Homo sapiens: one gene and its partner. The protein of the gene in region 1 purifies or fractionates together with the protein of each later gene. This does not show direct contact. Each region holds a gene or a part of one and is shown on either strand. Other genes may lie near its edges.

What was found.
Region 2: the proteins of BCL11B (region 1) and CHD5 purify together in Homo sapiens (affinity purification with mass spectrometry; 2 studies listed by BioGRID and IntAct, with this or other methods). This does not show direct contact.

What each region holds. Positions count from the first base shown.
Region 1 is NC_000014.9:99,258,124-99,273,900, reverse strand, and holds the start of BCL11B (B-cell lymphoma/leukemia 11B), read left to right. Parts: upstream 1-1,703; 5' UTR 1,704-2,682; coding exon 2,683-2,740; intron 2,741-4,800; exon of another isoform or gene 4,801-4,837; intron 4,838-15,777. UniProt on the Homo sapiens protein: Key regulator of both differentiation and survival of T-lymphocytes during thymocyte development in mammals.
Region 2 is NC_000001.11:6,138,558-6,154,334, forward strand, and holds part of CHD5 (chromodomain-helicase-DNA-binding protein 5), read right to left. Parts: intron 13,980-15,777; coding exon 13,855-13,979; intron 12,599-13,854; coding exon 12,475-12,598; intron 10,856-12,474; coding exon 10,689-10,855; intron 10,519-10,688; coding exon 10,297-10,518; intron 8,315-10,296; coding exon 8,108-8,314; intron 7,867-8,107; coding exon 7,655-7,866; intron 5,599-7,654; coding exon 5,467-5,598; intron 5,375-5,466; coding exon 5,266-5,374; intron 4,049-5,265; coding exon 3,857-4,048; intron 3,772-3,856; coding exon 3,571-3,771; intron 1-3,570. UniProt on the Homo sapiens protein: ATP-dependent chromatin-remodeling factor that binds DNA through histones and regulates gene transcription. May specifically recognize and bind trimethylated 'Lys-27' (H3K27me3) and non-methylated 'Lys-4' of histone H3.

The DNA of each region.
Region 1 (15,777 bases):
GCCCCGCCCCCGGTCTCCATCCGCTCGGCCTCGCGTCCGCCCACCGTGGAGCCCACAGTTTACAGAACTGCAAGCCAGGGCACATTTTATTGTTATTATTTTTTAGGGTATGGGACTGGAAGGGATCTCTTTCTGTTCTCGCTCACGGACTCTGGGCGCTGTTAAATTGTTGGTGCCATCGCCCCACCCAAGACCTTCGGGACGAAAACAAAAACCCCCGTGTGCCCCCCGAGGAAAAGGCCCCGAGGGAGGCGGCGCTGAGGCGTCACGGCCTCGCCATGCGCCCGGGTGAAGCCGCCGGAGCCAGGCCTGGGGGCGGAGTGGGGTGGGTGCAGCTGGACTCGCCCGCGAAGCCTAGCCGGAGCCAGGCCCCGACCCGCCCTGGCCGCCTCCAGAGAAACCCTGAGAAGGGAGAGGAGGCCAGCCGCGTGGCGCGCCCAGCCCTGGAGGCCAGGTCATCAAATTGACAAAGTTGGCCACAGCCTGGGGAATGGGGGGTGTCCACGGGGGCCGTGGTCTGGCCTTGTCCCCGGGCCACGGAGAGGCCCCACAACTCCTCTTGTCCTCGCCGGTTGGAGATCAAACGGCTGACAAGGCAGCTGCGTCCTTCCCAGTCTGACAGGCATTTCCAAGTCCTACCCTGGGCCGAGGAGCGCGGGGGGCGGGGTGTGACTTCCAGGTTGCTGTGATTGTCAGGGGCGCCTCCTGGAGTCACCCACCCGAGTATCTGCGGAGATTTGGCCACACCTACTCCTGGGCTGGCAAGTCCAAGTCCCTCTCCCACGTGGAGCGCCCCGGTCCCTTTACCCTCTCGCTTGCCATAGACCCAGTTTAGGAGGTGGGGTCGTGTTTGACCCCAGGAGTTAATCGGGGTAAGGTGAGGGGAGGGGACAAAGATTTGAGTGAAAATCCTTTTCCAAGTGGGACTCAAACAAGGTCTCAAACACTTCTCACCCCCTCACGTGCTCTTGATTCTGTTGTCTTAGTGTCGTTTATTTTGTCATCCTCACCCTCCCAGAGTCTGTAATACCAGGATTTATATGGAGACACTTTTTGGAAGTTGAACTCCAACATCTACTCCCCTCCCCTCGCCGCCCGCGACCATAAAACAAAAGTAAAAACTACCAAGCGACTTTTCCAGGGAAACGAAGCGATTCTTACTGTCCCCCCAACTCCCATGTCGACCCCAACCCTTTTCCACAGTCCACGCCCCCACCCCCAAAGTCCAAGTCCGAAAGAGCTTTTGGGTGGGTGGAGACTTGCATTGATTCAATTTAGTTCACTCACACAGCACCCCGCCCCCCTTCTCAGGGGGTCCTGCTCCCAGGATGGAGGAGATATAAGGACGATTTTTCTTTTATTTTAAAATAAGCTGCCCAGTGGCCCCCCCCAACCCCCTCCCGCTGTTGCGCAGCCGGGGCTCGGGGGAGATGAGCGCACAAAAACGCGGTTTGCACGTGTGTCCGGCTTGGGCTGCGGGTGTGCGCAACTGGCGACTGTGTGTGTGTGTGTGTGAGTGTGCGCGCGCGCGCGAGTGTGTCTCTGTGTGTGCTTTCTTGTTCTCTTACAGGGTACAATGTTAAAAAGCCACCGCTAGTCGCCCCCAGTGCTCCGACTCTCTGGGTCTTTTTGTCTCTAGTGCAGATTAAACGTCACGTCCGCACTTGAACTTGAATTTTATCCCATTGTACAGAGGCAGCCCCAGCCATAGAGAGACCGAGAGCTCCCAGAGAACCCGGACTCCGCCATCTTCACGTTGCAATCTATAGCTCCCAGTCTGCGCCCGCACCGACCCAGGCGCACTGGGCGAGCCGCCCCTCCGCCCCGCTCCCCCCGGGCCCGCGGCGCCAGGGGAGCGCTGGGGAGCGCTCGCGGGGACTCGGCAGCCCCTCCGGCCGGCGCCAGCCTGCCAGGTGAACTGGGAAGGAGCCTCTCCTGGTGTCCCCCCAGAGCCTCGGAAGGGTCAGTCTCCGAGAAAAAACAAAAACAAAAACAAAAACAGGCAGCCCGCAGAAAACCCAGAAACAACCGAACCGGGGCAGTTTTACATTGCTTTGGGTTTTTTGAGGGGGCGGGGTGAGGGGGTACGAGACAAGTCCCCAAGTTTTCTTTGCTTTTTTTTTTCCTTTGCTTTTTCTTCTTTTATTTTTTTATTTGTTTGCATTTTTTTTCCCCTCCTGGTAGAAGTGCGCTTTCCACCTACCAGACCCTGAAAGAAAGTGTCAGGAGCCGGTGCAAAACCCAGTTTAAGTTCAAGAAGACATTTGCAAGTGCAAGAGGCCAAGCAGTTTGAAGAAGTGTAAGAGATTTTTTTTCCTTCGAAAGAATATATTTTTAAAGAAACCAGCCAGTCCGCGGAAAGCAACAGCAGTTTTTTTTTTTTTTGCCTCTTTTTCTTATTTTAGATCGAGAGGTTTTTCTTGCTTTTCTTCCCTTTTTTTTCTTTTTGCAAACAAAACAAAAAACAGCATAGAAGAAAGAGCAAAATAAAGAAGAAGAAGAGGAGGAAGAGAGGGAAAGAGAGGAAGGGAAAAAAAACACCAACCCGGGCAGAGGAGGAGGTGCGGCGGCGGCGGCGGCGGCGGCAGCGGCGGCAGCGGCGCGGCGGCGGCTCGGACCCCCTCCCCCGGCTCCCCCCATCAGTGCAGCTCTCCGGGCGATGCCAGAATAGATGCCGGGGCAATGTCCCGCCGCAAACAGGGCAACCCGCAGCACTTGTCCCAGAGGGAGCTCATCACCCGTAAGTGTCTGCGGAGTGCGCGCGAGGGGCCGGAGATGGGGCTCCGGGCGTCTGGGGCTGGGGACACCGAGCCCGGAACAGCCGAGCCTGGCCAGGCGCCGGGGCCGCCCGCTGGCTGGCAGAGTCTACGGCGTCGGCCTGGAGCATGGCGGGGGGCGGGGGCCATAGGAAAGTTTCTTTGCAGCCCGGGGAGTTGGGGCGCCGAGCAGCCGGACGCGCCTCGGGCTCGGGGGCCTGCGGAGCCGGCTCCGGGCCGGGGAGGGGGCATGCAGGCTGGAGGAGTGTGTGTGTGTGCGCGCCGAGCCCGGCTGGACGCTCGCCCCTCCGAGCGGCGTGTGTGGCGGCGGCGGCGCTGGTGGCGGGGTTTGGAGAGGAGGGGGAGGGGGCTGGGGGAGCGGAGGGGGAGGGGGAGCCGGGAAGTGGGGAAAAGTTGGCGAGCGCGTGGGTCCGCGCTGACGGCGCGGGCGGAGGAGAGCGGGGTGCGTTCCGGCTGGGGGAGCCGTAGGGCCAGGGGCGGCCGCCGGCTCCGGGTCCCCGGTCCCTGCGCCCGGCCCAGCAGGGTGCCGGCCGCGCCAGTCCTAGGATTCCGCAGCCGCCTTTCTCTCCCCTCCTCCTGCTATTTGCAAAATAATCCAGCTGCGCGGCTGTTTGCCGGGCTCAAGCCCCCCTCCCCACCCCCCACTTCCCCACCTCCGTCTGTCTCCTGGGATGATCTTGTCTTCTTTCCCCCACTTCAAAAAAGGTGGGGGGATTGGGGTTGGTGAAAAATCCCCGCCACGAGGAAAAAAAAAAAGGTTGTCAGTTAGGAGTGGGAAGAGAGTGATGCGCTTGTAAAATAGTAAAAGAAAAAAAAGAAAAAAAGGAGACCCATCAATCTCGTATCCATCTTTCTATCTCAGTATCTTTCATCTTTCCTATCTAAATAAACAAGGCAGGTCGCAGTGGAAATCCACCGGCTGAAATCGTGTCGATTTCAAGCATGTGGCTGGGCGGGCAAAGTCAGGCAGCGGGGCAAGACAAGCAGCAGCTTCCACCGTCCCTGTTGGGTTTATTTAGCAGAGGGGAAAAGCGAGCGCGAGCGGGCCAGGTACGGTGTTTGCAGGGGAACCCGCCCCGAGTCCCCGCACACTTGCACCGGGAAGGTGGCTTTGCGGCGCTCCCCGCCCGCCGCAGCCCGCGGGGCGGCTTCTTCGCTGCGCGCGAACATTTCCCCGCCGTTCTTTCTCTCGCGGTGCCTGGGTCGCCGTTCCTTTTTTTTTTTTTTTTTTTTTTTTTTTTTTTTTTTAACTGCAATAGAAATAAAACATCCTCTGGGTGCCATCGAGACCGCGGGCAGGTTATATGCTTGCAATCCGCCGCGCACCTCGCCGGGCTGGGGCCGGGCTGCCCGCGCGGAGCTCGAGAGGGCTGCGCGCCCAGTCACCGCAGAGGACTGGCTGCCGGGCGGCCGAGAGCCGAATATTTATGTTATATTTTAAAAAATTTAAATAAATAAATAAATATATAAAGTGGTTCTCCCCTCCCCTGAAAACCCAGCATAGGAGCCATCTGCTCGGAGCAATTGCTGTTGCCATCTCTCCTTTGTTACAGCAGATACATTAGTAAGAATTTGTGGATTTATTATGATTTTTTTTGGGGGGGGGGGAATAGAAATTAAAGTGGGATTCGCCTTGGGAGAGGGATGCCTCTTTGGAGGAAGGGAAGAGGACTTCTCTTTTATTTTTCGCCGTTGTAACACCAAAGAAGACTCGCCGGCTGCGTTTAAAACAAAATGTTTTGCAGCTAGATTTGAGCTTGGTTTGATCAAGGTCTTTTTTGCCAGTTGACATTTCGATCCTTTACCAAGCCACAGCAATCGCTTATTCTACACCCTTCCCCCTTTAGATGGGGTGGTTGTTAAAACGTCTATACTTGCAGAGGCTTAATTTCTCCAGGAGGCAATTTGCCCCACGTAGCCTCTGTATAATTGCAAGGGTTGTTTTTGAGGAGGGGGAATTGGGGGGGTCGGGGAAGGGGGAGTGGATGGGGGTGCACTGCCAAGCTGGCAGCAGCGGCGAGCCAGGAGTGGTTGCAGTTGTGTGTAAGGGGAAGAAGCAGGTAGGTTCGCTTTGCTTTGGCTCTCCTTCTCCTGGCATTCCTGGGACATCAGGCGAGAGCCCTGGCCAGAGGACTGGTGGCAGCTGGGCATGGGGGTGAGGGGTGCCTGGTGCAGCACTTTCCCATCCTTCATTTGTTCCCTGTCTCGCTCAGCCCTGCTCAGAGCCACGCTGGGGAAAGCCAGCTGACACTGGAGCAGTGGCAGGGAGGGAAAAAGAGAGAGGCAAAGGAGAAGAGAGGTGGAGAGAAAAAGGGGAAGGAGACCAGAGGGCAAAGGAAAGCCGGCCTGCCTTTGAGGGGCACACGGAGCCCAGGCTATGTGTACAGGTTTAAGCTAGGAGAGTGGTCCAACCAGTTTTCAGACAAGGCTATTTATTATCCAAAAGCAGCTGGCTTTTCGTCTGTCCTGTGTCACCTGGGAGGGAGGTGGGAGAGCAAGCAGGGGAAAGGCAGGAATGGGGTGCACTTTAGCCTCTCTGGCCTCTGGAAGTGCCTCTCCACAAATGATGCAGGAGCCGTGGACTCAGGGTGCTTTGGAGCCCTGGCTGGCAAAGCGGGTGCTGTCGCATCCTCTACTTGGAGTTCACATTTTAGATTTTAAATTCCAAAGATACCCCTTAAAACATGGTACATCTTTATCAGTTGGGTGGCAGCTCCTGGGCCTGTGGGGCAGCAACCTCAGGTCCTTCAGGGATGATGCAACTGCAAATAACTGATGGCCTGGGAAACAAGAGGGCACACAAATAGCACGCATGGTCTTTGTGGGTGGGTGGCGGTGGGGAGGGGAGAGGGGGGAGGGAGCGTCTGAGAAGGGCTCCATAATGAGCTAGTTAAATTTACAGACAGGGCCAGGGACAAGAGGAGTGAGGTAAAAAAGAGTGAGAGACAGCTGGTGATGGAAACCTGGGCTTCTGGTTTGCTTCAAAATGTTTGACCCAGATGGATATGGCTTTTAAAAGCAGAGGACAGACACAGCTATTAATAAAAAAACAAACACAAAACAACACAGTGGCAATCGTGCCGAGGGGAGGTTAAGGGGGATCGGCTGACCACGCAGAGGAAAGGGCCAGAGCCCGCTGTGCCAGACAGGGCCAGGGTGAAGGGAAGAGTACTTAAATCCAAGAAGGAGCTTGATGCTTTCTGAAGAGACCAAGGAAAATAAGATGTCCACGGTAAACTGCGTAACCCCAGTCAAGGTGATTTTCTCAACAACCCACCAACAGGTTTCCTAGGAAGATTAGTAATTTTCCGTATGAATTCACGATTTTGTAAAACAACTAGAGACCCAAGCAAGATTCAATGCAAAAGTTAGGCTAACTGTGTTAATTCCATGGTTACCTTTTGAATTAGGTTTTGCTGTAGCTGTGTGTTTTGAAGGCAGCGGTGCTCACAATTATCTTAACTCCCCAGGGTAGAGTATATCTCCAGTGGTCCACATGTCTTTCAGAATTGGGCCTCCGATAAATTTCATAAGACATAGCCCTCTTTTTTTTTTTTTGGTTAGTTGGTGGGGGGGGGGTGAAGTTCCTCTCCCTTCTGCACAGAAGGGAACCCCATATCATTAGAAGTGTGATATAAGTCAGCTGCTCTGATTCAATGGGAGAATAAAAACGTGTTCACCAAAGGTGTTATGCCAGGCTGATTTTATTCATTTGTAATTCACACCTGAGAGAAAACAGCCGTGAGCATATTTTAACAGCCCCTAATATTTTTAAAGGGTCTTTTTTCCCTACCTGAATGATATGATGTACATATGCATATTTCTTTTCTTTTCTTTTCTTTTCTTTTTTTTTGATGGGGAGGTTGCTATCTGCCTGTGCTTGGCCTTGGCGATTTTTTGTCTGGCCTTTGAAATATTTCATAACAGAAAACTAGGCATTTCTGAAGTGCTGGGGTGAATGCAGTTGCTTTTGTGAAGCCGGCCTTAGAGACATCGAGGCTGGGTTAGCTGGTTGGGTGTGTTGTGTCAGTGACCAGTGTGGAGGGCTAAGTGGGTCCTACTCAACCCAAGGGAAGCCCAACTTTGGGTGCATTTGAGAATAATTAGAATTGTGTCTCAGGTGAGACGGAAGCACAGAAAACAGTCGTTTACAGATACCAGTTTCTAGCGCCTTCTCAGAATGGAGTTCTTGGCACTGTCTTATAGCTTAGAACACGGCTTGCACCAGCCTTCACTTATCCCCTTTTCATCTCCTATCTCGATTGCTTTGCATTCTCTGTTGCTTGTTGTGATAAAATACTTTCCAAAATAAACTTTCAGTTGAATTGGCTTTTGGTTGATGGCAAGCTGAAACGCCGAGCCGCGCCTAGCGCCACTTGGCAGCTAGGGGGAGCTCGGTGCCCGTGTCATGGCTTGGCGCCTCCGCTACAATGGGCTAGGAACGGGCTTCCATCAGCAGCGGCGGCAGTTTACGTTGCTGCAAAATACCTTAAGTGTGAAGTTGTAATATTGATTTTCCAGCAGAGATTCGTGCAGGACAAAATGAGAATATAAGTTTGAGAAATCTATTTTCAAGCTATCGCCATTGATTTACAAGCCCTCACTTGGCAGATGGGGGCATTTTCTTTTTCTTTGATTTTCTTTCTTTCTTTTTTAACAATTAAAATTGTGAGTTTTGAATGGGTGTGTTTTCCCTGATTCGTCCGTGGTCTTGACGTTCTGAAAATTCTGCTGCGTTATTAAGGCGCTGGTGATCGGGCTGGGGAGGTCTGGGGAAGGCGTACTGCTCATTTCTGTCTTGCATGTCACAGACCCAGGGAACAGTCGAGAGTTGCTGCTTTTGGGAGTCGTGTACCTAAAACAGCTTGATGAATGGAAATCCTTTTAGCTCAAATTTTATGACACTTGGATTCTCAATTCCATTTATTAGGTAATGTTCCCACTGAACTAAGGGAAATAGCACCGTTCCCCAAAGATTTAAAATGCCGACTCAAATAACATGTAAAACTTTGTTTGGAAAGAGTATGTGATTGCTAGAGCCAGTCTTGATCACATCTTTCACCCCAAACAGTTGTCCTTTATGGATGGCTTTTAATGAGAGGATTTCTCCCCTAAACATGTAATCTAGTGATGGGGAATATATGTGCTTTTGATCATAGGATTTCTAGATTTATAATGTCTTCTTTCCCAAGTTGAAGAAATCTGCAGACTGCACCCTGAGTCTTATGCTAGAGTTCAATATATGAGCAGAAGAGGTTACCCTGCGACAGGAAAGAGTGCTTTATTCTAACCTGAAAGAGAAATAAATTAGGTCAGACAAAAGCCTAGCGCTGTCGTCAGCTGGAGAAAGAGCCTTCACTCTCCAGTACACAGGGCCAGCAATTTATCTGATGATTTCTCTACTTCATTTAATGTTTGAATCGAGCCAGTTGTAAGCATGTAGTGGCAGCGAGCTCACTGGACCACTCAGAGATGAAGAGGCACGGTGACCTCGAAGTCTTGGGCCGGACGGTGGTCTCTGAGCTGCAGAAAACCGTTAAAAATCAGTTTAGCAATCTCCAATCCTTTGCCTTAGAACTCAGGGGAGTTTCACAAGCTGTAACTAAACACAGATCATAGATAAGACAATGCAGGAAAAAATATATGGGGGAGGGAATGGGAGGGGGTCAGGTTCTTGTCCGTTGGAGACTCTCCTTCATCTCCCATGGCTTAAGGATGGACCTTCTGGCTGCCTGGTTAGGCCTCACCTTTAGCTGAAACTCTCCAAAGACTTTGGCCTCGAGGTTAATGTTGGCTTCACATCTGGGGAGGACAAGGAGAAAGTAAATGGTCTTTGGGGACTGTACCCTGCACCACATGGTTGAGTTATTGATACCGGCTGAGCATCTTTCTCTGAAGACGGTGTTAGCTGTAGATACACTTTTGTATTTATTAATGGGGAAGGGTACAGAAGACACTAGGAATGAATGTCTGTGTCATCCAGCTGCCGTGAGTATGCTTTGTCACTTTGCGGCACTCTTTTGACTCAGGCCATTTGGCCTGAGGTCCTGTGCGGCACTCTTTTGACTCAGGCCATTTGGCCTGAGGTCCTGTGTGCTCTGTCCTGTCCCTACTCCCTGATCCCACTCAGCTTCCTTCCGGTCCCAGGGAGCCAAATGTCAGGGAGATGTGCTCAGGCTCGGTCCCCCTCTTGCTCCATCCCTCCCCAAGAAACGCCGTGTGCTGACTGCCTCCCTTGAGCAAGTATGTTTCCCAGGGCGTGGGTAAAAAGTGCCGAGAGCAGGCTATTTGGAGACGCGTGGAAAGAGAAGGACACATTTCTTGCGTCTTCTGCACAAGCCAGTGAGGAGGGTGAGCAGAGCAGCCTTGTTTTTTGCTGGCAAAAGTGACACTAGATGGAGGCTTGATGAATGGTGCCACATTCACGGGATGTTGGTCCAGCATTTTGACATATGCTAGTCTTTTGTGCAGTTGCTGAAAATCAAGAAATTCATTCTTTTTTCTTTTTCTTGTGGCAGCTGATAATTTGCTTGGGTGTTGAATAGCCAGCCTGAGCTATTTTACTGTAATGAAATCCCAGACCACACAAAATTAAGTCACTTCAAAGTAAAAAAAGAAAAAAAAAATCCTCTCTTTTACATAACTTCTTTTTTATGGCCCCCTTCCACTTATTTTATTGAAATACAAATAAATACATTTGTGAAATGTTCTAATGAGTTTTCTACTAAAACAACACGCAGAAATGACTCAAGAAAAGTTGAGTGCCAATATTATTGTGATTAACATGTGCCTCAGAAATGGATGCACTGCTAAGAATTAAAAAAAAGGGGGGGGGCGGTGTCATGTTTAAATTCCTACCTTGGAAAAGAGATGTCGAAAGCACTCCTGCCCTTGCTATTTGCTGTTGGCCTCAGATAATCCAAACTCCTCCAGCTAAAGCCTTGAGGTCCAGTGTCCTGTGTGGAAGCCCTTCTTTTCTTCCGCACCTTTGAAAAAAGCATAATGTTAAATAAAAACAAATCTCTTCATTTGCCCACAAAGAGTGCTTTTTTATCACATCGTTAGGAGCCCGTTGTGGCTCTGAAGATTGAAGGCATTTGCAGTTTTATAGAACCTGCTAAATGTGTTGAGAAGGATTGCTATTGTGGTAAATCTTTTCCTTTTCTTTTTCTTTAAAGCGCCTATTTTATTTGTCAAGACTTTTATTTGTAACCTTTTAGTAATGGCTGAGACCTGTGAATATACCTGAGTATGTTTTCCTTATTCACTTGTTCTTTTTTCTGCTCTTGTGCTGGGGAGACCCAGGCTCCTGGGCTCAGTTTTTGGGGTTCTGGAGAGGTGTGTGCATTATTCTTTTTTCTGCTCTTGTGCTGGGGAGACCCAGACTCCTGGGCTCAGTTTTTGGGGTTCTGGAGAGGTGTGTGCAGTGGGGGAGAGAAGGCGGTTGGACTCCATAGAGCAACTGAGGATATTTTTCAGGGAGCTGCTTAAGCATCCTAAAATTAGGCTGGAGTCCTGCAAACAATCTGTACACAGGGAGACCCTCCCCAAACATTCGACTTTCCCGCCTGGAGTCTGTAGACCAGAAGGTATGGGAGTGAGCCTCTTCCTGCATCTAAAACCTCTTCACGGATCTGGAGTTTCCACCTCCTGGCCTGCAGGCCAGGCCCAAAGTTTCCGCTGCTGGCGGAGTCAGCGGGACCCTGGTCATTTTCCTGGGAAGCCCACACTGGGAAGCATGTTTTGCACCGGCCGCCTTCCCTTGCTCTCCCTCTCACATGTCAGAAACGGCGATCGAGGTGTGTGCCTCAGCTGAGGAGGGGCAGACAGGACCTCATGGGGTGGTGGCTGTGGTATGTATCTGTCCCTCCAGGGAGGCAGCCTTTGGAGGGTGTCAGGAGGGTGCAGAGCTGACCTGGAGCAGGCTGGACTCCTCTGACTGTCTGCTGAGAGGGTCGAGGGTCAGGACAGAGAGGTGTGATCTGGGTCTTGCTTCCTGCTTCAGACTCCGCCTGGCTGTGCCTTCCCAGGGTCCCCACCCCCAACTTGTGTCCTAATAACCCTTCGAGACCCCCTGTGGACATCCTCCTGACACCAGCCTCCCTCTTATCTCCATTTCCTTCTCTGCCAGGCACTTCATTATTCCCTCCGTTAGGGGAACTTCATAAAATCTCTTGTCGTGCCTTTAAGCGTCATCTAGTCATAGATTATTTTCTCCACCAAGAATTGATTCCTGCTCTCTCCCCCTCCACCCTTCTCCTCCCCCCTCCCTACGGTTGTTATTTTCTCTTGGATCCAATAAATTAAAAATGGATGGCAGCTCAGAAAGTGTTGTGCTCCGTCGAGTGTGCGTGTGGTGGCGTTTCCGTGTCGCCTGGAGTCCCAGCCCCTCCCCAAGTGTTCACGGAGAGGAGATGAAAAGATCTCTTCGTAGATTATGGGTAAGCATGGGCTCGCTGGCAAGAGCTCCCTCTTCGTAGGAAGCAGGTGTAAAGTCTCCAGTCGGATGCAGAGCTCGGGCGGATGGATGCTGAACATTTCTTGTAAACATGCGTACACATCATGATGGCGGTTGTGACGTTGGTGGCACACGATTTTAAGAGCCTGGGACCCATCCCCCCACATCCTTCCCTTTCCCACCCCCGTCATCACTGAAACAATAATTCTGTGTATGTTTCTCCTGGACTGTAGCTTAGCCATTAAAGATAAGAGAGTTGGATTTGAATTAATGCAGGGTAAGGAGGAGCAGCAGCCCACGTACTGTGTATGTAGCAATGCACATGTGTGTGTGCAGGCAGCCACGCACATGCCTGTGCTCTGGGGACAGCAGGCAGCAGACCTCTCGGCTGGAGTTCCCCTAAGGGCAGGTGCATGGGCAGTTGTTAGAGATGGGCCAGGGAGGGCGGGGTCCTTGGCACCCTGTGTGTGGGGGAGTCACTGGCCAGGTAAGGCCCTGCTGAAAGCTTGCAGCTGCTGGGGGCTTGTTGGCTGCTTGGCTGGGCCTGTGTTAACGATGTCTTTCCATTTCTTTCTTCTGACTCAAATTCCTTCCCAGCAAAGCCGAGGCATGGGGAAGTTTGTCTTGGGATCAAGTGCTTCCCCTTTCACTTAACAACGATGTCCATTATTATTTGTGATTGCTTCTAAATGCATTTACCAGCTGGGAGGAGGCCTGGCCTTGTAAATAAAATGTGGTTTTGTTGTAAAAGAAAATCTAACTCGTGTGTTTGTGTGTGTGTGTGTGTAAATACAGATTTGTCCCTGCACTTTAGGATTTAGCATTTCAGAATCCGCCTCAGCCCTCTGATATCTGCCTTTCGAACAAGTTGTCTGCTGCATCCATTCATTTTTCCTCTTAATGAGTCAAACATTTCAGCAATTGCTCTACTTTATTCGGCTCATAATATATTGAGAGCAGCAATATTCTGCAGGGCTGCCCGACACTTGGGGAGCTTTTCATGAAAGCAGAGATCATCTCAGAGGAAAACCTCATCTTGGCTTTATTTTTTTAAGGCCCGAGTTTGCTGGACAAGGCTGCATGAGGGGCTGGCCTGTAGGGTCTGGGAATTTGAAAGACTGTTTTCATTGGTCTTTTTCCTGGTGCTTTTTCGTCTCTGGGTGGCAGGTTGGACCACTCTGCCTGTTAGAACAGAGGCCTGGCTCTCTGAGGCTGTGCAGAGCCGGGAGACTCAGGTGTCCATAGGGCAGAGAAAGAGGGGTGTCACTTTGCCCTTCCCAGGGCTTGGCTTTCTCCTTTTATTTCTTCCATTATCGATACAGTTCTAAGGAGGGACACATGCACACATATGCAGGCACCCTACACGCCTAGCTTGGTATCTGCCTGCCAGCGGAAGTGAAACCACAGTCTTTGGGGGTGTCTACAAAGGCCTTGAACGTGAGCTTTCAGGCCCACTTGGTCCACTTACTCTGACCCAGAAATTTGGGGCTGGGGGTGACTCTGCTGCCTGATGTTGAGGGTGACCTTGCTACCTTCCTGGGAAGTGTCGCACACAGCAGGCCAAGGCACAGCGCCACAGCCTGGGTGGTGGGGAGAGGAAACCCCGTTCTTTGGAATCGGGTGAACACCCTGTCATCTCAGGGGTTTAACTTTCAACGCTGAAAGTGGGAGGGGAAGGAGATATTTTTTGTTTGTTTCTTTTCCTCCCAGACTCCCTTAGAGGCAGTGAGTTGGATCTCTGGTCTGGGACGTGGAGATCCCAGCTCAGAACTGAGCCCTGGAGGCCTGGATAATCCCGGGGCTGTCTCGGGGACGCCAACAGGGCCTGGCTCCCAGGTTGGTTGGCTGTTAGGACTTGACGCAGAAATCAGAGCTGCAGCACAGCAAACGGCTTTGGACACCTTCAAACTCAATTACGGGGGCTCGCAGGGCTGCTGCATGAGGAAAGTGAAAAGGCAGAGACTGCCAAAAAAAGGAAAGAATACCAGATGTTACCAAAAATAAAAAAATAAAAAAAAGAGGAGAGAAAGGAAAAAGTGCTGGTACATAGTCTTGGCAAAAGACGAAGCTGAGGAGGAGGGGTGCTTGCGAACAGGCACGTGTGACCTCTGCTAATTTTTAAATTCATCTGTGTTTCTTTTGAATTAGAAAATGAGTTTGAAATTATGTAGTTGAAAACCTCCTAGCAGAGAGGAGATATTTAGGCTTGCTAGAACTCCTACTCAGGAGGGCGGACGAGGCTGAAAAAGTTAATAAAAAAGCAAACAAAAAAGTAAACCGAAGATTAAATTAAAAAAACCAAGAAGACCTCTTCGCCCTCAGAAAGGACGGTCCAGCTGGCCATGTGGATTTGTCGTTGTACGTTTTTATCAAATCTTCCACTGATGCAGGAGTTTGCCAGGCCTGGACAGGGTGGTATTTAAAATAGTACCAGGTACCGCACCTCGCCCCTGTTTCCTTTGAATTCTCAATTTCATTATGTCCTTTTTTGCTTTTCAGCTCATTTCTTTTGTGCCTCTCTCTCTATTTTTTAACAAAACAATATTTTGACATCCTCCTCCCATTTATTAGAGCACCTTCTGTAAAAATGGCGCACAATACATCCTTATATTTCTAAAGAACTGTTTTTACAGTGCTCTCCTTTGGCTCTGAAATTATGTATATGTAATTGGTAATTAAAGGTGCGAGCTTTTCAATATAAACAGTATTGCTCAATGTTAGATCATTAAAGGGAAAAAGAGGCACCAAATAATTACCTTTTACATTCTGACAAACCGTTCACAGGAATCCAGTCTTCCCTAGAACCTCTGTTCGGTGGGAAGGTTGTGATTACATTTTAACCATAGCAAAGCATCTTTTCATAAAATAAATTGGTAAATTAATTACGTGGCATTGTCTTCAAACCCATTTTTAAGTAAACTCCTATTTCTTTCTAAAGTGTAATTAATGGTTTCTGGGACCGGCTTTGTGAGGACTGTTTCTTTACCTTGTAGGTTCTTTTTCTTAGAGAGATGCAGACAACAGATTTAGGATTTCCTCGTCTGCGGGGCGTTTCTGTACTGCCACATTTCTGATGCATTCTGCATTTAATTCATCGAGGGCTCTGTCTGCTTTTCTGTAACCACAGGTGGGATCTCAAATTGTAGTTTCTCTTCTCAGCGATACCTACGTCGCTACCTATTCACACATAGTTCATACGTGCGCGTTGTACGTCTTACATCGTCGTATATTCTGTATTCAGTTTCACACATGGACTCTCCTAGGCCCTGCATAGGCTCGTGTTCAGAAAATAGAGAACAGTGATTTATGTGTAGGATGGGAGATGCCACAGAATTTTTTCCTTAAATTATCTGTTCTTTGGCTCTGGCACTTCAATAACTTCACTGCCACGGAATGTATTTTCCTCCCTCCCATTCCTTCTCGCCGTTCCTCTGTGGTTTTCATTATCCTTCCCTAAATACCATACAACTTAAAATTTACCTGCCTCCTCGGGTTTCAGACCTTTGGCTGCCCTCTGGCTTCCCTGAAGACCCCGCCACTCGTGTCTTCTCTACGACTACTGACATTTGCTCTCGAAAAATTCCAGCCCGAATTTGCTCAGACCCCGAGGGGAATATGAAACCTCCACACTGTCCACTTCTCTTTATTTATGACACTTTTGGCTGCCGAGTCTTCCAATTTTCCCTTGAGGAGGTTGCTGCTTTTTGAGGCATTTATTAGCTTCCAAATATTTGGGTCCTAGGCTCCCTACTCTCTCCCCCACAAAAAAAACCCAAGAGAAATCTATCGGCTGCTAAAGAAATATAAAAACATACAGTCCATTGAAAGTGTGGTTTGATATCTTCCAAGAAATGCTTTTGGAGTCTGGAGAATTTTCTTTCTTTCATTTTTCTGGGAGTGAAAATAAAATCAACAAACAGAAAAGGACAGTGGGGAGTTGATGAGTGTGGGGGAAATCTACAGAGAAATGGAAGTCTGACCGGGCCTCGGGTGCTTGGCAGGAGAGCCTGCTTCCCGACTCTGCAAGCCGGTTCCAGCCTCCCTTCTGCTGCAGTGCTTTCTCCTAAGATATTTTTTTGGAACCTGACACTCACTTGTTGCTTTCTGAGCATGTGGGCTTCCTTCTCTCCTAAGGACGGGCCCTTAGACGCCCATCTGGGTTTCTGTTTTCTAGTTTGGTGTGTGGCCAGGTCCCAGGTAGAGGAATGTGAGTGGGATTCGCATGAATGGGGAGGGCATGAATGAAGGTGTAAGGGATGGGAGGGGTGGGGCTCCAGCCCAGCAGGGGGAAAGGGCTCCAGCTCACTGGTTCTCGGCCCTGGCTGCCCATTGGAATCACCTGGGGAGTCTGAAAGACTATTCCGATGTTTGTTCCCAGTGTAACTGGTCAGGGGTGCTGCCTGCGCCTTGGGATTTTTCAAACCCTCCAGGTGATTCTCAGATACTGGAAACTTTGAGAGACACATCACGACCTCATGCTGTCAGCAGCCAGGGTGTGTGTGTATGCACGTGTGTCCGTGTGTGTTCTTATACTACGTTGGG
Region 2 (15,777 bases), on another chromosome or scaffold:
AGAGAGCAGAGAGGGCCGAGGATGCCGTGCAGCATAGGCTTTGCCTGCACGTGGCACCTGGGTTTGCACACAATCTTTTAGCCGAGCATCGGTCTCCTCGCCTATCTAGGTGAAGAATGCTATGAGATCTCAAAGAGCTAAGTCTGTTTCTCAAAAAATCAGAAATAGAATTACCATATGATCCGGCAGTTCCACTTCTGGGTGTATACCCAAAAGACAGGAAAGCAGGGACACAAAGGGATATGTGCACACCCATAATCCTTCCCATCAGCGTTACTGACGACCACTAAAAGCCAGAAGCAGCCCAAGTGCTCAACAACAGATGAACAGATAAACAAAATGTGGTCTATCCCTGTGATGGGGGTTCTCCAGCCTTGGAAGGAAATTCTGACCCGTGCCACAACATGCATGAACCTCAAGGACATTCTGCTCAGTGAAATGAGCCAGTGACAAAAAGATAGATGTTTCCCGATTCTACTCATATGAAGTACCCAGAGTAGTCAACCTCGTGGAGACAGACAGTAGATGGGTGGCTGCCAGGGGCTCGAGGTGGTGGGGATGTTCATGTTTAATGGGGACAGTTTCCACTTTGCAAGATGAAAAGAGTTCTGCAGACTGGTTGCATACCAATGTGAATGTACTTAACACTACTAAACTGTTCTGTTGTTGTTTTGTTGTTGTTGTTGTTGTTGTTTTGGTTTTTCTGAGACAGAGTTTAGCTCTTGTTGCCCAGGCTGGAGTGCAATGGTGCTCACTGCAGCCTCCGCCTCCCAGGTTCAAGCGATTCTCCTGCCTCAGCCTCCTGAATAGCTGGGATTACAGGCACCCACCACCACGCCTGGCTAATTTTTGTATTTTTAGCAGAGATAGGGTTTCACCGTGTTGGCCAGGCTGGTCTCAAACTCCTGACTTCAGGTGACCCACCCGCCTCGGCCTCCCAAAGTGCTGGGATCACAGGGGTGAGCCACCGTGCCCGGCTGATTTTTTTTTTTTTTTTAAAGAGACAGAGTCTCATTATGTTGCCCAGGCAAGAGTACAACAGCTATTCACAGACACAATCATGGCGCACTACAGCCTCGAACTCCTGGGCTCAGGCAATCCTCCTGCCTCAGCCTCCCAAGTAGCTAGGACTACAGGTGCACACCACTGTGCCCAGCTGAACTGTACTTTTAAAAACGGTTAAGATGGTAAGTTTTACATTATGTGTATTTTACCACAACTCTTAACAATAAAATAGAAGAGCCAAATCAGCAAAGTGCTTGGCACACGGCAGGGTCCCAGTGTGGCTCAGGGGAGGTTCTTTTGCGTCTGATGATCCAGGGGCTCATCCATCTACAAAGTCACCTGTGGGATCATCGATTCATTCACTCATTCAACAGTTTCCGAGCATCTCTAAGAGCCACAGCTGCTAGGAGGCAGTGGAGGAGGCCGACCTGAGGGACTCGGAGGGCCTGTGCGAGGATCCACCAGCCCCCAAGGCTGTAGCACTGACATCTTCTAGGGGCCAATGGCTACAAGTCCTCATTCCTCAATGTGGAGAGGGTTTAGAAATGCAGAGGCTCAGGCCAGGTGCGGTGGCTCAAGCCTGTAATCCCAGCACCTTAAGAGGCCGAGGTGGGCGGATCATGAGGTCAAGAGATCGAGACCATCCTGGCCAACATGTGAAACCCAGTCTCTGCTAAACATACAAAAAGCGGCTGAGTGTGGTAGCACGCGCCTGTAGTCCCAGCTACTTGGGAGGCTGAGGCAGGAGAATCGCTTGAACCTGGGAGGCAGAGGTTGCAGTGAGCCCAGATCGCACCACTGCACTCCAGCCTGGCGACAGAGTGAGACTCCATCTCAAAAAAAAAAAAGAAAAGAAAAAGAAAAAGAAATGCAGAGGCTCGGGCCCCACCCCAGCACTGCTGGGTCAGAGACTGTGCTTTAACAAGACCTTGCAGGGTTCACAGCACCATGAGACCTCATGCTTATTAACTCACTTGACTCTGTGGGGTGTGTCTGTTAACTCCATTTTGCTGAGAAAACACTGAGACCCAGTGAGGCCACGTGACTTGCCAGAAGTCACACAGCTGGTGCACTGCATTGAATAGTGTCCCCCCAACATTCATGTCCACCCAGAAGCTCTTTTGGAAATAGGGTCTTTGCAGACATAATTAGTTGTCTGGGCATGGTGGCTCAATGCCTATAATCCCCATGCTTTGGGAGGCTGAGGCAGGAGGATCACTTGAGCCCAGAAGTACAAGACCAGCCTGAGCAACATACGGAGAATCCATCTCTACAAAAAATTTAGAACTTAGCTGAGTGTGGTGGTGTGTACCTGTAGTCCCAGCTCCCGGGAGGTCAAGGCTGCAGTGAGCTATGATCAATCACTGCACTCTAGCCTGGGTGACAGAGCGAGACCCTGTCTCAAAATAATAATAATAATAATAATAATAATAATAATAGGCTGAGCGTGGTGGCTCACACCTGGAATCCCAACACTTTGGGAGGCCAAGGCAGGCAGATCGCCTGAACTTAGGAGTTCGAGACCAGCCTGGGCAACATGGTAAAACCCTGTCTCTACCAAAATACAAAAAATTCGCTGGGCATTGCGGCATGTGCCTGTAATCCCGGCGACTCTGGAGGCTGAGGCATGGGAATTGCTTGAACCGGGAGGCAGAGGTTGCAGTGAGCTGAGATCGTGCCATACTGCACTCCAGCCTGGGCGACAGAGTGAGACTCCGTCTCAAAAAAATAATAATAATAATTAATAATAATAATAATAATAATTAGTTGGGGCCAGGCACAGTGGCTCACTCCTGCAATCCCAGCACTTTGGGAGGCTGAGAAGGGCAGATCACTTGAGGTCACAAGCTCAAGACCAGCCTGGCCAACATGGTGAAACCTGTCTCTACCAAAAAATACAAAATTAGCCGGCCATGATGGCGCACTCCTGGAGTCCCAGCTACTCACGAGGCTGAGGTGGGAGAACCACTTGAGCCCAGGACGGGGAGGTTGCAGTGAGTCGAGATCGCCCCACTGCACTCCAGCCTGGGCGATACAGTGTCTCAAAAAAATAAATAAATAAATAAATAAAATAAGTAGCTAAGATGAGATCATACTGGATTAGGGTAGGCCCTACATCCAGTATGAATGATGTGTTTATAGGATGAGAAACAGACACAAACGGGAAAACCCCATGTGCTAACAGAGGCAGAAACTGACGCGACAGCTGTAGGCCAGTGAACCCCTGCCGCCACCAGGAGGCTGGAAGGAGGAAGGAAGGGTTCTCCCCTAGGGCTTTCAGAGGCACGTGGCCCTGCCCTCACCTTGATTTCCAACCTCCAGCCTCCAGAACTGTGACCGAATACATTTCTGCTGTTTGAAGCCACTCCATTTGTGACACTTTGTTACAGGAGCCCCAGAAAACTGACATGGCTGTAACTCAGCCTCTAGGACAAGCCCCTCAGAGCCTGCCGGCCTCGGTAGCCCTCCCAGGCTGAGGGACCCCAAAGGAGTGCACGGCACCCGTGGTCCCTGAACTAGACCGGGGGCCTTCCTACCGTCCTTCCAAGGATAGCGAGCCCTCACCTTCATACGGAATACCTTCTTCCCACTCCGAATGGCGTTGTCCTCAAAGGAAAACTCGTTCTCCCGAATCACCGAGCGGCTCTCCTTGTCCCCCGTGTAGGTGACCACGTAGAAGTCGGGCGCCCACATCTCAAACTCGCGTTCCCAGTTGATGATGGTGGAGAGGGGCGCGCTAACCAGGTAGGGCCCTTTGGAGTGGCCCTGGAGAGAGAGGCCGATGCCGTGAGACCACCTGCCCTTGGCCAGGACCAGCCACCCCTCCTGGCCGCCTGCCCCGCCTGCCCACCTCCTTGTAGAGGGAGTAAAGGAACACGATGGTCTGCACCGTCTTGCCCAGACCCATCTCATCGGCCAGGATGGTGTCAGTGCCCTGGGCCCAAGAGAAGCGCAGCCAGTTGAGGCCCTCCAGCTGGTACGGGTGCAGTGTGCCGCCTGTGGAGTCGATGTACCATGGCTGCTTGTCGAACTTGACCGTGGGCTGCAGGGGAGGCAGCGGTTCAGACACGCCCCAGATCCTGGGCCACCAGAGTCCACACTACAGGCCTTTGCACATGCAATTCCTTCTGCCTGGAACACTCTTCCCACTCCTGTCTGTCTTCCTAACTCTTCTCCAGTTCTTGGATGGAACACCTCTTCCTCTAGGAAGCCCTCCCTGACTCCCAGCCTGGCTGAAGTGCTCCCACAGTGTCCTCCCATGGCAGCCCTGTACTTCTCCTATCAGGGAAATTTCCCGACTGTTGAATTCTCTGACTCTGAGCCCAGGTTGTCATCACCACCTTGGTCCTGTTCACTGCCTCCTCTTGAGTACCACACAGTGCCTGGGACATGTGGTCACTTACTCACCATTTTTTGGATGAACAACAAAACGAACATCCATCTGGGGCATTCGCAACGCCCCCAGTAACAGGCTCCTCCACTGGATCCAGACATTTACTTTTTTTTTTTTTGAGACAGAGTCTTTGTTGCCCAGGCTGGAGTGCAGTGGCACAATCATGGCTCACTGCAGCCTCAATTTCCTGGGCTCAAGGGATTCTCCTACCTCAGCCTCCCTAGTAGCTGGGACCACAGGCACACCACCGTGCCTGGCTAATTTTTTGTAGAGGTGGGATCTCACTACGTTGCCTCAAACTTCTGGGTTCAAGCGGTCCTCCCACCCCGGCCTCCCACAGTGCTGGGATTACAGGCATGAGCCACCATGCCCGGCCCATTTGTCTCTTGATCCTGCTCCAGGTCACTGGCCCCATGCAGTCCTCCCAATGGACCAGGCCCATCTGCCTTTCCCCAGCATCTGACAGGCGCCTGATAGTCCCAGGCCAGGCCCTCCGTGTTCTGTGGATACCCACCAAGGGCCCCTAGAAGACAGTGTGTCTTCTGAAACAGCTACCCAGGGCTCACTGGCCCTCGTCTCCTCAGGGCCAACCCAGGGCCAGGCGCTAGTGGACACCCAGGGAGCTCTGCTGAGTGAGTCATCCTGGGTCTCCTCCCAGGTGAGAGTGGTGTGTAAGTAGCATGTCAGCTGCAGTGTTATGAGGGGCCTTCCAGCTGTCCTAGCCTACATGGGCATGACACTGTCTGCATAAGCCATGAGGGCCCAAGGAAACATCCTTTTGAGAACACACACCCCCTGCACATTCAAGTCTGAGGTGGGCAGGCCCTGGCAACCCCACCCACTGCTGCCCCACCCTCCCCACTCACGTCCACAATGGGCGTGTCCGGCGGCTTCTCCTGCTTGTCGTCCCTCAGCTTCTTGCCCTTCTTGAGCAGCCTCTTGGGCAGCCTGGTGTCTTCTCCCAGCATCAGCTCCCTGGGAAACGGCATTGGAGGCAGGTGAGCAAGGCTCAGCCCAGGAGCAGGTCCCGGCAGCCTGTGCCTAGCAGCCGGATCCCTGCGACCCACCTGTGGCCCCAGTAGGCCTGCTTGAGGTTGTCGTAGTAGGGGATGTCGATGTCATCGATCTCCCAGGTGCACTGGTCGTAGGGCAGGTCTTTCCACTTGATCAGGTAGTGCACATCCCCCTTCTTGTCAAAGCTGCAACACGGTGAACAGATGTGGGTCGCTCAGAGCAGTGGCCACAGCACAGGTTTGATGAAGGGCACCTCCCAGGATGCAGAGCCATTCACACCCAGGGTCCCCTCGGATGCTGGGCCCAGCCAGGAGGAGGAGACGAGGGCAGAAGCTCCAGGGAGGTGCAGCGGCTTGCCTGGGGCCACACAGCGAATGAGAGGGGGATGTGGCAGAGCTGGAGAGGGACACGGAGGCCAGCTAACAGAGGAGCAATGAGCCAGCCTCCCACATCCTTTGCAGCCTCTGTGGCAGGGATGAATCCCATTTGTCACAGGGTCTGGATTTTCACAGGAGTTCTGGATTTCTAAGTTGGAAAGTTCTCCTTCCTGCCAATGGACTCAGTTTTCTAACTTAAAATACGCAAAGGACTTGTGCAGTGCCCACGTAGGGTGAGGAGTCATCTCTGCAAAGTAGATAAGGATGCAATTCCTGCGTGTGAGGTGGTCTCTTCTGGGGACACAAAGACCCAGTGACCAAGCCCAGCAGCACACAGCTTGATTCTGGCCACTGGGAGGGTCTTTAGGGCCTCCCACCCACCCAGGCTAAGGCAACCAGGCCAGAGGAGTGCTGGAGGGCCGGGCTGGGGCTTGACTACCCCACACAGCAGTGCCGAGGAGGCACACAGACCCGGTGAGCAGCGGCTGCTGCGGGCCTGGGAACATTAAGAGAAAAACCGATCCCGTTACCACGGCAACCGATGTTTGTTTGTTTTCCCATACATAATTGATTGTTTTGCAGATTGGGGGAACAAATCTGGGGGAGATTCACCTGCCCCACTTTGGGGCAGAGAGAAAAACTACCATGTATATTTTTAGCATGTAATTTAGTAAAGGTAGAAAACCATGGGCCAATTCATTGCCGGGCTCAGGTTCCCACAGGAACTGACCCTTGAAGGTCATTCTCAGGGAGGCCTGGGGAGGAAAAGGGGGGTGTCCCATAGTTGAAGGGGGGCAGTTTTTCAAATTCCGCGACCCTCGTACTGAAGACCACCCACAGCCAGCCTCTGGCAAGCTCCTGTCACCCGTGCAGCAGCCTGTTCCCTAAAAGGGCCTCAAAGCTCAGCAGATGGGAACCGGGATTGAAATCTGAACATCTGGCTCAGGCTTTTAACCTCTGCTCTACCCAACAGCTGCCTGAAGCCAGAAGCACTGAGTGTCAGAGGCCACCGATCCTAAGCCCCTCAAAAACAGAGGCCACAGGGTAGCTGGGATGGGGAGCACAAGCTCCAAGCTGCCACCAGGCAGCAGGTACTCTGGGCCCCACCCCAAGGCCCATCTGTCAGCCACCACCAGTTCTCAAGCACCTCAACTCAAGAATCAGCAGGCATTCCCACCACCCACCAAATCAAAACCAAAGCCCACGGGCCTCCTGCCTCTGGCTCTTTGTGCCAGCCTCCTGCAGCCTCTGATTGCTAAGGCATCCCAGGGAACTGCCAGACTGCTCCAGGAAGAGCTGCTGCTGGGGCACTGGGGGGTGCAACAGTAGCTAAGAAAGCAGGTCCTGCAGTCAGAAAGCATGGGGTTCAAATCCCAGCTCCACCCCGTGGCTGTGTGATTCTGGCGACTTAACCTTGCTGTGCCTATTCTCACATCAGTAAAACAGAGGTGAAAGTAAGACGCCTCCCTCCCAGGGTAGGCAGTGCTCAGTACAGCCAGCTGCTGTTACAAACGCGGGGGAAATGTGGACATACTCCCACACCTCGGGCGTCCCTCGTCCTCAGAACCCTCTTGCTGGTATCAAGCACTAACCCAGCATGAGGGTCCCGACGCCCCAGGGGTGTGAACACGTATGCATGAGTGTGCCGGCATGCATGGGACGGCCCCTCTAGCAGGTCAGGCAGATCTCCAGCACTGGGAACCCTGGGCCCTTCCTTGTGCCCCTGCTGTGCCCACATGTGGTTCTGCACGGCAGCCCCAAAGCAAGGGCCCTGGCACCCTGCGCTGCACCCATTTTACAGGGCAAAGAAGCTGACGTGGCCCGGCCCCAGCGATGGGCAGGGTGGCCGCCTGCAGGCACACACCTATGGTTCAGGATTCGGTGAATCATCATCCACTCTGGCTTGATGCCATAGCGGTAGAAGCGCTCCTCCATCTTGGCATAGAGGGGGTCCTTGTTCTTCCTCTTCTCGCTCTTGCCGTCTTCATCCCCAGAGCCGTAGTCAAAGGGGGGCGGCTCATCCATGTCGTTCTTTCTTTGGTAGTTGCGATACATCACCGTGTGGTACAGCTCCAGCTGCTCATGGAGCGGCACAAAGTCACAGAAGGGAGATGGGCCATGGTCCCCTGCATCTCCCTACCCAGCTCCTCTAGCCCCAGCCCAGGTCCCAGGCAGGACAATCCTCCCGCTCAGCACCACCCCAACTCCCAACAGCACCCCTCAGTCAGAGGCGCTTCAGCCCCTTCCCGCCAGCCCAGGAGGGTCCAGGGCTCACCAGGTCCCGGGCCTTAGCACAGCCACCCTCCCGGGCACTCACCTGTAGCTCCTTCACCCAGGAGCAATGCCAGTAGGACAGCCCTGCCCACTTGACAAAGAACTCTCTCTCAGGGATGCCCTCCAGGGGCTTAGGTGGAGGGAGGCTGGGCTCCACGTCAGGCCCCGGCAGCCCCACCATGAAGGGGGCAGGGGGCTCCGTCCACCTCCAGTGTAGAATCCGCTGGACTTTGCCCTTCAGTGGGGGGCACTGTGGACAGAGAAGGGTCCCCAAGGTGGGGCTCAGCTGCAGGGCCCCACCCTGAGGCTCCCATGACAGCAGGCTGCCATGCAGGCTCCCTCCCATCAGTGCCACTGCCCCCAAGTCAGAACAGTACCACGGTGACGCCATGACATCCACCCCGTCCCCAGGAGCCGCATGGGTCATGCACACAGGAGATGGGCAGTGGGGGTCTGTGAGACCACGTGGCCCTTTCACTCAATGGTGAACTTATCGGCACCCAGAATATCTGAGCCAGCGTAGGTGAGACTGCCATGTGCATAGGACAGAGGGGGAAACTGAGGCCCACTCGGCAAGGGACAGCAGAGCAGGGAGCAGAACATGAGATTCTGGACTTCCCCTACCTTAGGTCTTCCCATTGCCCCCTGAAAAGAGGTCACATCACTGTGTGATCCCCAAGCACTCAGGGAGCATGAGCCCTGTGCTGGAGCCCAGGGACACGGCAGCCCCATCCACCATCCCTCACCCGGGGCAGGGCTGCACCCAGGCACCGTGCGTCTAGGCTGGGACAATGAGGCCCCATCTCTGGCAGCCCACAGACACACTGCAGGGGCCCTGACAGATGCTAGGGTGACAGTGAGCTGCTGGCTGGCAAAGGCAAGAAATACAACAGCCACAAACCACACCACTCGGGCCCTGAGATGGGTGGGAGCAGCCTTGGCCCTCCAAGGAGGCGGTGCTGTCTGACTGGACAGGGTCGGGGGTGACTGATTCAGGGAGACAGCTCTGGTGGGGATAGCAGGTCCCAGCTTTGCTACTACCTGTCCTCGGAAACTCATCCAAGCCTCCAGAGCCTGCTTTCCCATCTGTAAAATGGCCCACCCCTTCCTCCACCTACCAGATCTGTGGTGCCACATCACACCTGAAGGCATTCTGGAGGTGCAAGGTACACCACACAGCCAGCCTTCCTTTGGCCTTGGTGACAGCAAAGGCCGAGAGGCAGAGGAGGAGGAGGAGGACATGGGAGGCAGGAAAGGCTCCTCCACTGGCTCTTGGGGGAGTGGAAGAGGGGACCCTTCCTACCCAGGCCATGGACCCTCCTACCCCCATCCCAGCCCCTCAGGGAAGAAGCTGAGAGGAACCCCACTCCTGCCCCCCTCCCATCCCCAGGGCCTTCCATCAATCCTAGGAAAGCACAGAAGGCTGCACCCCTCAAAAGGGTCCTCCCCTGGCCCCTACACAGACACAGACAAGTATGCGCACGGATGCACGCACACACATACACACGCACAATGCACACAGGACGGCCCAGGGCTAAAGGAGGCACAGCCCAGGACCTGAGGGGTGGAGGATCTGGCACCACAGGGGGCAGGACAGACAGCTCAGAGCAAGGGGCCTTCCGATGTCTACTGTGACTGGGGGGTGACGGATGGGGGGTGCCCCTCTTCCTGTAGAAACTGAGGCTCCCGCCCTAGGAGCCTCCTGCCCTAGAAGCCTCCTGCCCTCTCCCTATCCCCAGCCTTGGAACAGGAGCCAGGTCTGGGGTGGCTCCAGGAACCTGAATTTGAGTGGATAGTTCTGCCCTTGTGTGGCCTTAGGCAGGTCACTCTGCTTCCCTGAGCATCAGTTTTCTCATCTAAAAAGGGAGTAACATGCCTGGTGCCAGAATACTCAGTAATGTTAAAGGACACTATGATGGATGTGGAGCCCTTGCAGAGCACGTGGTCACTGAACAGTGGTCGCGGTGTTGGCATGATCACCACACCTGTCTGCCTTTCCCTAACACTCATGCCTCCCGTCTCTAGGGGAGTCAGACGCGGAGAAGGGCGCGAGGAAGCTATTGTGGACGGGGTCTCGAGCAGCGCGGGCGAAGCTTTGCGGGATCGGCTACCGAGGCGGGGCAGGAGCCGGCAGGGGCGGGGCCTTTTGAGGAGGGCAGGCCTTCCCCTGGGGGCGGGGCCTGTTCCTGGGGTGGGGCGGGGCGTCCGGCGCGGGGCGGGCGGAACACTCACAGTACAGCGCGGGCAGAGCCATTCACCGTTTGGGATCTCGGGCAGCGGCGGGTTGAGGCAATGCAGGTGGTAGGAGGAGGGGCAGGCGTCGCAGCAGAGCAGCTCGCCCCCGTCCTTGCACACGCGGCAGAACTCCATGTGGTCGTCCTCCTCCTCCTCGCAGCCGCCCTCCTCCTCTTCATCGTCGTCGTCCTTCGGCTCCCACTGGATCCCCTCCTTCTCCTGGGGGAGGAGGCCAGGTGGAGGCACCCTGGGCGGGGTCCCCGCTCCACCAGGCCCGACTCCCTCCCTCCCCTACAGCATCTCCCCGCATTCTGCCCCCAAATGAGGGCACAGGGGTGGGGGAGCCAGGCGTGGCCCCGCCCCCAGCCCGGGGCTCTGCCAAGGCTTACACAGTGGGGGCAGCTCCACTTGCCCTCGGGAGCCTTCTCCAGCTCTGGGTCCAGGCATACGAGATGGTAGGCCCTCGGGCAGGTGTCGCACAGGATGATCTCCCCACCCTGCTGGCACACCTCACAGTAATCCTGGTGGTCTGTCTCATAGCCGTCACCATCATCAACTAGGGTAGGGGAGAGGCAGTCATGGAAGTCCTCATCCACACTCCCAGCACACAACCAACTGCATCGCCCCAGGCCAGACAGGCACAGAGTAGATGTCTAATAGAGGGTGGATGGAAAGGTGGGTGGGTGAATAGACTGATGGTTGAGGTGGTAAAAGGGTGAGGAGATAGAAGATGGATAAAAGGAAAGAAGGAAGGAAGGAAGGGTAGGAGAGTGGGTGGATGGGTAGAAAGATGAATGGATAAATGGATGATGGATGGATAGACAAATGGATGGATAGATGAATGGATGGACAAATGGATGGATGGATGGATGATGAATGGACAAATGGATGGACAAATGGAAATGGGTGGACTGATGGATGGATGGATGGATGGACAAATGGATGGATGGATAGGTGGATGGAAGGATGGATGGATGATGAATGGACAAATGGACGGATGATGGATGGATGGATGGATGGACAAGTGGATGGATAGATGGATGTATAGATGGATGAATGGACAAAAGAATGGATGGATATATGGATAAACCAAATGGATGGATGAATGGATGGGCAAATGAATGGATGATGGATGGATGGACAAATGGATGGATGGATGGATGGATGGATGGATGGGCAAATGGATGAGTAATGGATGGACAAATGGAAGGATGGATGCATAGATGGACAAATGGATGGATAGATGGACAAAAGGATGGATAGATGAATGAACAAATGGATGGATGGGTGGACAAATGGATGATGGATGGACAAATGGATGATGGATGGACAGAGTGGTAGATGGATGGATGAACCAATGAATGGATAATGGATGGACAAATGAATGGATAACGGATGGACAATGGATGGATGGATGATGGATGGATGGACAAATGGATGATGGATGAATGGACAAGTGGATGGATGGATGGGATGGATGAATGGATGGACAGATGGATGGATGGACAAAAGGATGGATGGATGGATGGATGGATGGATGGATGGATGGATGGACAAGTGGATGGATGGATGATAGGATGGATGGATGGATGGATGGATGGATGGATGGACGGACGGACGGACGGACGGATGGACAAAAGGATGGATGAATGGATGGATGGATGGATGGTGGATGGATAGCTGACGGATGGATGGACAAATGGATTGATGATGGATGATGGATGAATGGCTGGATGGATGAAGGATGGATGGATAAAAAGAAGGGACTGAGGGAAGGAGGGAGAAGGAGGGATGGGAAGGAAGGTGAGGTAAAGATGGGTGTTAAGTGGGTGGGGGGTGACTGAAGGGAGGATGGCGATGAGATGAAGCACTTCCCTCTCCAGTCACCACACTGCTAATGCAAATGCCCTGGGGTAGCTCCCACCATAGGTTCCTTGTTCTTTCCTTACTGGGACAGGATGCCCCTCCCCAGACAGTAGAAACCAGGGCCGTGTGGGAAACACAGGGGCCCCACCTGGCTGAGACATGAGGATGCCCTCCCCCTGCTTCCCACGGGGAGGTTCCATGCCCCGCACATCCACCCGGCAGGCCGAGAACCGTCCAGATGGGGAGTCCTACTCGTGCCCCACTACATCCACCCAGCAGGCCAAGAACTCTCTGGAAGGGGAGTCATACTCCTCTTCTTCTTGCGCCTCCTCTTGCTCTTCTTGCCCAGGGCTGCAGAGCATTCGGAGCGCACGGAGGCACTGTGGATGCTGGCGCTGTCGAAGTCCGACTCCTCCCTCTCATCTTCTTCACTCTGCAGGGGAAGACAGGGTCCTGTGATCCCAGGGCTTCACCCAGAAGGCTTCGCTGGCCCAGGCAGTGTGGGGTGGGACAAAGCACGGAAGAGGCTCTGGAGACACAGTGCTCTCTGTGATTCATCTCAGCCCCCAACACAGCTGAAAACCTCACATTACAGCCTGCCTGTCCAGCCTGATGTCCCACCGCCTACCCAGAGCCCTGCTCTCCAGCCTCAGACACTTCCCACAATTTCCACCTCTGAACAGCTTCCCAGGCCTTGCCCTCCATCCTGCCAAACTCCTAAACATCCTTCAAGGGGCAGCCCTAGGGACACCTCCTCCAAGAAGTCTTCCCAGATCTCTCCTTTACTGGACCTACTGTGGCTGCGTGTGTGCCAGGTCTGGCCTGTCCTGTCTGACTGGTACATCACGGGCTCTCCACCAGCAAACATGCCTGCCAGGTGACGAGTGCTACAGGACCACGGCCCACTGTGGCTGAGCAGCGGGCCTGGTACACAGTATGTGCTCAACAAATATCTGCTAAGCTGAACTGGACCGTCAGCTCCAGGGCGGGCCACACCTTCTCTCCATGCTCCCCTCCAGACCTAACACTGGCTCCTGCCATGGTGCAGGGAAAGAGCTTCCAACTCCACCCACCGCAGGGCTGGGGTGAGGTGAGGGAGGCAGCTACCTGTGGGGGTGAGGAGGGCGAATGCCCCTCACACTCACAGAGAAAGGGGGGCCCCAAGGCTGAGTAAGACCTGGGCTTAGTGTCTGAGCCTGGGCCCAGAGCTGGCCCTGAGGACAGGAGGAGGTAACTGGGGCTCCAGCCAGCCTGATCCTACCCACATACCACTTCTCTAGGGTCCAGCCCCCACCCAACTACTCCCCCCGAGAGCAGACCTGGGTGCTGGGCGGCCAGGCCCCACCAGGACAGATCCCTCCACCTCCTGCCCAAATGGAGTTGCAGCTGTGGACAGCAGGAGCCAGGACTGAGCTCCCACTCAGGAGGGTGAGCCAGGGGAGCACTCCCTGCCCAGAGTCCAGGCTAGAAGGGCCCTTGGAAGGATTCAATCTAAACTCCTCATCACACAAATGGAGAAACTGAGGCCCAGCACACCTGCATGTAGGATGGAAGGAGAATAGTGGAGGGGTGCGACCTGCCCCAGCTAGTTTGTAATGAACTGAAGGCCCTCGCCTGGCCCTTGCGTGCTCATGTGCAGACACACATGCATGCAAATGCACACACACGCGCACACACGCACACACTCACCGAGGAGCCTTTCTTCCTCTTGTTGCTGATCCCCCCGAAGCGGAACTTGAGCCCGGCCGTCTTTTTCCCTTTGCCCTTTTTCTTCCCATCTTTGGAGCCTTTGATCTTCTTCCTCACTCCAGGCCCTGAAAAACAGCAGTGATGATAGCCAACCACTGCCACCACTGACGGCCTGCTTCCTGCCATCATCTCACTGAGCTCTCGGTTACCCAATAAGGAAAGGGTCATTTCTACCATCACCCCGTTTCAGATGAGATGCCTGAGGCTTGGAGAGGTAAACCCCTTGCTTAAAATCACACAGCAAGTGAGGCAAAAACCAGATGACGGCTCTGACTGGAGGCTGCCCTGACCGCCTTGCTGCCCCTTGTCCATGACCCACAGAAATGTGGCCCTTTTGGGAGGATCCCCTATACCGTCTCCAACCACTGAAAGGAGGCACTAGCCATCCCCCACAGCCAGCAGGGCCACTGAAGGCACAGCCGCCCACCTGTGGTCCATGCCTGAGCCCCCAAAGGATGTCTTGGAGCCAAAAGGCCTTTTCCCACCTGCCAGCCAGGCAATGCTGGTCCCACCCAAGACTGCCCCACCTCTGCCAGTCAACCCCAGCAAGGGCCAGCAGGGCTGAGGCTGTTTTTATGGAGCTGGCCACAGGGCAATTAGCTACCTGGGGAGTAATGACCCAAGAAGGAAGGGGGGCCTGGAGGCAGGGATGCACACCCCACAGAGGCAGCCTCTCCCCAGGCCGTCCTCTGGCCACACCACACACACGGACATGGAGCTAGGAGCCCAGCTGCACCCTCCATGGCGCCGCGGAAAATCTATTTCAATTTTCCAAGCTCTGAATAAGCAGCTCATGGAATCGATAGCTCAGCAGCTGGAGCGCGAGAGGAAATGAGAAAACAAGGCAGGCTGGGCAGACAGGGGCGGGCCAGGAGCCCCTCCCGAGATCCTGATGGCCCAGACAGATGGAGCAGGACAGGGAACAGACTCTGACCCTTGTCACTTCACCCACCAGGCTCCCTTCAGAGACTTGGCATGGTGATGCCAGACACAGAACCCCAGAAACTAAAGCTCCTTGGGGCTGAAAGAAGGGATCCCCGGAGCCCCCTCAGCCCCTTCCATCAAAACCCAAATCAGCCAGACGCGGTGGCTCACACCTGCAATCCCAGCACTTTGGGAGGCCGAGGTGGGCAGATCACCTGAGGTCAGGAGTTCTGAGACCAGCCTGGCCAACACGGTGAAACCCCGTCTCTACTAAAAATACAAAAAATTAGCCAGGTGTGGTGATGCACTCCTGTAATCCCAGCTACTCAGGAGGCTGAGGCAGGAGAATTGCTTGAACCCAGGAGGCGGAGGTTGCAGTGTGCAGAGATCGTGCCACTGCACTCCAGCCTGGGAGACAGAGTGAGAGTCTGTCAAAACAAAACAAAACAAAACAAAACAAATCAGGGCACCCAGGAAAGCTGAGCTGCAGGTGACTGACAGCCCTGGGGAGATCAACATCCCCAGCCTCCAAAAGGCCAGAAACCTGCACCCAGAAAGCTCCCTCCCCAGGGCCTTCAAGTCACAGGGGGCCTCTGCTGCCTGCATCCTCCCCACCCAGACGCCCTGCCACTGAGGCAGAATTTGGATCTCGATCTCCTTCCAGGCCTGTCCCAGAACAGCCTCCCTGGGAAGCGAGACCTGGCCGTGCCCAGTCCCTCCAACTCCTGCCTGCTTCCCGGATCCTAAAGCTGGAGGGGCAGGGCCTCCATGCTCCACATTGGCCGAGGGCCTGGAGAACAACCCTGCACACAGTGGGTATGCAGACAAGAAGAAGAGACGGGCTCGACTGGGGCCTCCTCCTCCTCCCCAGAAACGGCACAGGCTCAAACCCAAGAGCCTGCCAACTCCCAGAAACCCAGGCTGGAGCGGCTCCACTCT